Homo sapiens: one gene and its partner. The protein of the gene in region 1 purifies or fractionates together with the protein of each later gene. This does not show direct contact. Each region holds a gene or a part of one and is shown on either strand. Other genes may lie near its edges.

The links.
Region 2: the proteins of FYTTD1 (region 1) and XRCC4 purify together in Homo sapiens (affinity purification with mass spectrometry; 2 studies listed by BioGRID and IntAct, with this or other methods). This does not show direct contact.

The regions. Positions count from the first base shown.
Region 1 is NC_000003.12:197,780,883-197,784,382, reverse strand, and holds part of FYTTD1 (UAP56-interacting factor), read right to left. Parts: intron 2,573-3,500; coding exon 2,474-2,572; 3' UTR 1-2,473. UniProt on the Homo sapiens protein: Required for mRNA export from the nucleus to the cytoplasm. Acts as an adapter that uses the DDX39B/UAP56-NFX1 pathway to ensure efficient mRNA export and delivering to the nuclear pore.
Region 2 is NC_000005.10:83,350,047-83,353,546, reverse strand, and holds part of XRCC4 (DNA repair protein XRCC4), read right to left. Parts: intron 423-3,500; coding exon of another isoform or gene 417-422; coding exon 305-416; 3' UTR 1-304.

The DNA of each region.
Region 1 (3,500 bases):
ACAAATATAGATAACCACTACAAAGTTCTTCGTAACATAGAACAATCTAAAAACCACAACTCAATCTTTAGAGCTGAGAATAAATCATGTGAAACCTGTAACATTTTATTTGTTAAAAATGAACAGCTTCAGAATAGATCTAAATGTAACTTTTCCAAAAAACACCAAAAAGTACAGTGTAAAGCACCTCCTCGTTAAATACAAACTTTCATTTGGTGATGCACGGCACCAATGTTTTGCATATACCTTGATGCAAAGAAAAGTTTAAGTTGCATCCTGTTTTTAAAAAAAACCGAAACTTAAGAACTGAACAAGGATTACAACCACATTCCAATAAAGAAAATTTTCCTTCAACAAAGCATATTGTTTTGTTTATATACAATATGTGACCACCAAGAGTTTTAATTTAGTTGTACCAAAGGCAAAACATTATACTTAAAATTAAATTACAGATGCATGAAGAATAAAAGTTTAATGTATCAAAGATAATTTGTTATTTAATGCACTCAATGTCAGTATTTGGGGCAATTTTTAAAGTTTTCCCAAAAAATGGCATGAATAGCTCTATACAATAATAGGTAAGAACAGGAAAATGAAAACACCTTTATACCATATTTTCACAAACCATTCTAAAGACAGCAAACTTGAGCTCAGCTGCTTTTCCTTGCTTTAAAATAAGCTACCAGTAATTCTAAATCAGACTAAAATGTACTGTTCCTAGACCAAATACAGGCATTCATCCTTGCAAAAATGTTTTGCAATGAGTTCTTGGCCTATATGAAAAGCATCAAATAGCTAAGGAGAGACTAGAATTTATTTCCAAATTCTGTGACTGACTTCCAATAATCCCTTATCAGTACGAGTACCAGGAAAATATCAGATATTAAAGATCAGATTTAATTCTTTGGTATAAGCATGAAACTGTTACTGATAGCTTTCCATGGCGAGCATAAACCATGAAGCAACTCAAGAAGCATGAGAGACAACAATGAAATCTAGTATACAATGCAGGGCAGGCCAAGAACGATGTCTGCTTTACAGGAAAAGTCAACACTAACAATCTACTCCTGAGAAACTAACACCTATTTAGATGTTTTTAACATAATGGCAAACTAAAATGTCAAGCTTCAAAATGACCAAACTTGTAACGTACAGCTGGAAGATTTTGCTGCATTTGGCATTATACTGTAATTTACAGTATACAACATCTGGGGACTCAGTACTATCTTAGCACAGACTAACTTCTCCCACTCCGTCAGAGGTGGCAGGTGGCGGGTCGGTGGGGAGGGCCTTTTCTCCCCATAAATGCCTGAACTTTAATTTATACCATATAAGAAATCAGTGAAAGGTAAACAACAAGGTTAATGTAACTCTATTATAAATTTTGCATTTTTTTTCTCTGTGACATATACAAGTATATTTTTGTTTTTGGAGCTATAAATTATTTAATTTAGCAATCTTCAAAGCTCATAAATTTCAACTTTTCAAATAAGAAATTTTAACTTCAAATAAGAAGTCTAGGACTTTATGGCTATTAATTTTACTATCAAAATATCCAAGGGACTCCATTCAATGTAATAGTTATAATTCTTCTAAATATCATTTGAATAATTCTTTGTGGACGCTAGACTCAAGACTATGCTACATCCAAACAGTACATCTATAACCAGGGTTTTGAAGTGTTTCATCTCAACTACCTGTCCTTCAACTTGCTACTTACTTCCTCTCATGCCTTCATTTATTAAACACAAACTGTCATTTTTTAAAACTGGACCTTCTCCTCCAAGGCCCTATCAGATAACTTTGTGAATATGCATTTACAGTCTCTAAACACCAACATTTTAAACTAAGACTAATACCTAGGGCCACATTTCCTGTTAAAAGCTCAGCACTAAAGCTGTGTAATTCCAGGGGACTTTACACCGTCTGAAAGAGGAAGCACGTTCTGGATGTCCCCCTAAGTCTTCAAACCCACAGCTGGAAATTCTAATACATTGTTCTGTGTCTCTAATGAAGAAAAGGCAACGGCACTGACTACATCAACACTATTAAAGGGCAAGTGACAGCAACCAAGGGACCTACTCATGTTTATGAAGACCAGGATTTACCATGACAAAGTCTAAAACACGGGCAAAGGTGATGAGATCCTGAATACTGCTATCATAAAAATAATCAATTTCTATCTTTCTGTCTTCCTTCTGCTGCATGAGGAACCAAAGAAGTCAAACAGATGATTGTTCTGTCTGAGCCAACCATGAAATCTTTAAGAACAGACAGGTATAATCCCTATTATTCTTTCAGGGCATTATTTTATACGTTTTTTTTTTTAAAAAAAAAAACCTTCAAAAATAAAAATAAGAGTTATTTAGCCTTGTGAATATTTTGAAGTAAAGTTTCTTGAATTTCCGTGATGAACTCTTCAAGCAATTCAACTTCTCAGAGTCATCACTCAAAAGTTCCTTTGACATGGGACCTATCCCACGGTGACAAAGCGGCTTCCCCCTTTGTTGTATGTGAGAGTGGCTCTTTGTTCCTTCAGGATCCCAAACCGCTCATTCAACGTCATCCCTGTCTAGAGAAAAGAAAAAAACAAAAACAACAACAAAGCAACAATTAACAACTTTACTGAAGGCCATATTTGCTTTGGAACAATAATGTGATCTTATGATTAATTACAAGTAATGACAGCTAAAATTTCCTAAATATTTACATGTATGACCTCATATAAAGCCTACATTATATACTATATAAAACACACATATGCTATAATGCCTAGAAGTCATACACCCAAAGCCCCTATCTGAATTATTTTCAGGCTCTGTAAACACTGCCACCAACTCATGATGTCACTGATAAAAGTAAGAACTCTTCAGACCTGTAAATATTTTATAGCAAATTTTCTTGAATTACGGTGAGTTCAACACAGAAATTCAAATCAAATTCAAATGAAAATCTGTTTTTTTTTTTATTAACAACAGCATCTACAAACTATACCATTTCTGGAAAACAATAATAGCAACAAAATAAAAATAAGCAAAACAAATTTGGTCAAAATTTTTTTTTTTTTTTTATTGAGACAGTCTGGCTGTCATCCAGGCTGGAGTGCAGTGGCACAATCTCAGCTCATTGCAACTTCCGCCTCCTGGGTTCAAGCAATTCTCCCACCTCAGCCTCCCGAGTAGCTGGGATTACAGGCACGTGCTACCACACCCGGCTAATTTTTTTATTTTTAGTGGAGACAGGGTTTTTCCATGTTGACCAGGCTGGTCTCAAACTCCTGACCCCAAGTGATCCACCTGTGTCGGCCTCCCAAAGTGCTGGGATTACAGGCGTGAGCCACCGCACCAGGCCAATTTGGTCAAATTTCTATCCATCCTTTGTATCTTCAATTTCACATTATTTCAAGGATACCAAAAAAGCATTTGACAAAATTGAATACCCATTCTTGATAAAAATTCTCAGCATATCAGGAATAGAAGGGAGCTTCCTCAATCTGACAA
Region 2 (3,500 bases), on another chromosome or scaffold:
ATCACATATAATATGTGTGAATGAATATGATAAATGTGTCCTTTGCAACAAAAAGTCTCATACAATTTATGTAATTATAGGCATGCTGAATGAATAGTTTAGAATAATGTGCCAGTGTCATCATCAAATCGTATCTTTGTATACATGTGTAATCCATTTTGCACAATGGTTTCAATTCACTGTGTATGTAATTAAATTGTAAGATACGGTAATAGCGGCTGCTGACTTGAAATTCTCCTTTTTCATTTTAAAGAAATGAATAGAAAACATAGTCTAGTGAACATCAAAGTATTTTTTGAGACTGTTAAATCTCATCAAAGAGGTCTTCTGGGCTGCTGTTTCTCAGAGTTTCTAAAGACATGTTTTCAGCTGAGATGTGCTCCTTTTTAGACGTCTCAGGTAGTGAAGAATCAGGCCTAGAACTGAAAAGAAAATCAAAATAGTTTTATTTTTAAAAACTTCTGTTATAGAGTAAAAGAAAATGAAGAGACACATAAGTGAAATGACAGTTAAATCCTGTTTCAAATTGGTTTAGAGATTTATTTCTCTATGCTATTAACTATAAGGAAAGAGATAAAGAGACTAATTTCTCTAACTGCTTTAGAATTAATGTCTCTATTCTGACCTAAGGAAAATTCAAGAACCTATAACAATACTCATAATCAAGGTCAAGAAATAAAATATTCTGTCCTCTGTGCTATAATCACTTTTATGCCAGGATATAGAAGGTTTTTCAAGTTACTCCTTTAATGATTTCATCACAATTTACATTTTACTCTGGCTTTCTTAAATTCTACTGATTAACATGCATTTTAATCTCTTAGCAGCAGAAAGTTTTGGTCACATGAATTACCTTTAGTGGGTCTGATGATCATGTGTATATATGAAAAATAATGATTTTTCACATTTATAGCAGTTGCTGATGAAATGTTGGTCCATAATCATTTATTGAATCTGCATATCTTCATTTAGTAAACTAAATTTTATTCAGGTTCAGTATTGTAGTCACTACTTCAATGGATTGACTGCTATATTTATGTAGATATTTTCTTTGAATCCTAAGATAACAGGCTGACTGCCATGATCACTATTAATTGGTCTTAGGAAGACTGTGCCAGAGAATAACAGAGCTCAATCAGAAGTAAAGCTGTGGAGTGTGTGTTAATATCCTTGTAGAAACCTTGTCAGTGGTTCTCTATGGAACCTTAATAAAGTATGCTTAATATTATCAATTAGAGGTGGCCTCTGGGGCAATTATGATTAGGTTGAGCTAACCCAGTAATACTTGGTAATACCCCTCTATTTCCAAGTTCAAAGGCGGGGGTAGAGTCACAACACCTTGGTATAGCTGAGAAAGCATGGGACTTGAAGTCAGGAAACACAAGTTTGAACCCAGGTCTATTTCATGTTAGCTATGTAACTTTAGGCAAGTCATTTAAACTAAGTGGGCTTCTATTCTGTCCACTGTAAAACTGAGATATTAGTATTTGTCTAGAGGTGGTCTAAAGATGAAATGAGTTGATGTAAATGTAAATGCTTGTAAATTCCCACAAAGAATTTGGAAACTATTATTATTACCTGCTAATACCCCATAAACTATGTAAGAGTTTCGTTAACAGCAGAGAAGAATAACCAATGAAAACCCCCAAATATCAAGTGTGTTTAGGTGATGAGTATTTTTAAAAGCCTGCACCCTTACCTAGTTGCACAGATTATTAGAAATGAGTTCTCCTTGGCATCTTGATTAGAGACAATTAACTACAGTTGGCTGCCACTAGACCTGGGACATGTTCTGTCTTATTCTGAGCAAGCCAATTTCAGACAACATCATCACAGGAGTGCCAAGGTGCTAGGCATTAATGCATTCAAGATGACAAGTACTACCCTCTGGGATTTGCGATGTTAAAATTAACAATAAATACAGGCATAATTATTGTAACATGGAATTAAATATCTAAAAATATATTCCAAAGGAGGAGAAAATGATATAGTATGGGATAAAAGTATAATTATTATATATATACATTTTCATTGTCAACTCAAAACACGTTAAACATTTTTCTCTGGCCAAAATGTCTTAGAGTTGCTTGTGCTCCTCCTAGACAAAAGAGATAACTGAACTATCTCAATTAAAAGTAAGAAATGGAAAAACAAGCAAGGTGAATACAATAAATGGTGCATGGAAAACTGGCTAGCCATTTGCAGAAGATTGAAACTGTGCCCCTATGTATTAGTCCATTCTTGTATTGCTATAAAGAACTACCTGAGACTGGGTAATTTATAAAGAAAAGAGGTTTAATTGGCTCACAGTTCCACAGGCTGTACAGGAAACATGGCTGAGAAGCCTCACGGTAGAAGGTGAAAGGGAAGCAGGCCCGTCTTACATGGCCGGAGAAGGAGGAAGCGGGGGGTAAGATGCCACACATTTTTAAACCAGATCTCATGAGAACTCACTCACTATCATGAGAATGGCAAGGGGGAAATCTGTCTCCAGGATCCAATAACCTCCCACCAGGCCCCTTCTTCAAGATTGAGGATTACAATTAGACATGAGATTTGGGTGGGGACACCAATCCAAACCATATTGCCCTACCTTTCAACATATACAAACATTAACTCAAGATGGCTTAAAAATTTAAATGTAAGATTTCAAACTATAAAAAACTTAGAAGAAAACCTAGGAAATACCCTTCTCAACACTGTCCTTGGCAAAGAATTTTTGGCCAAGTCCCCAAAAGCAACTGCAACAAAAACAAAAATTGACAAGAGGGACCTAATTAAACTGAAGAGTTTCTACACAGCAAAAGAAACTATCAACAAAGTAAAGAGTCAGCTTACAGAATAGGAGAAAATATCCTCAAAATATGCATCTGTCAAAAGTCTAATATCCAGAATCTATATGGAACTTAAATCAACAAGCAAAAAGCAAATCACCCCATTAATAAATGGGCAAAGGACATGAACAGACACTTCTCAAGAGAAGACACACAAGCAACCAACAAACATATGAAAAAAAAATGCTACACATCACTAGTCATCAGAGAAATGCAAATCAAAGCCACAATGAGATACCATCTAACACCAATCAGAATGCCTGTTATTAAAAAGTCAAATAATAATATATGCTGGAGAGGCTGCAGAGAAAAGGGGACACTTATACATTGTTGGTGGGAATGTAAATGACTTCAGCCACAGTGGAAAGTAGTTTGGAGATTTGTCAAAGGACTTAAAACATAACTATCATCCAATCCAGCAATCCCGTTACTGGGCATATACCTCCCAAAAAACCCAAAGTGTTCTGCCAAAAAGACACATGCACTGGCATGTTCATTGCAGCACTATTCACAACAGCAAAGACATGGAATCAACCTAGGTGGCCATAATTGGTGGACTGGGTAAAGAAAATATATTACATATACACTATGGAATACTACACAGCCACCAAAAAGAATGAAATAATGTCCTTTGCAGCAACATGGATGCAGCTGGAGGCCATAATT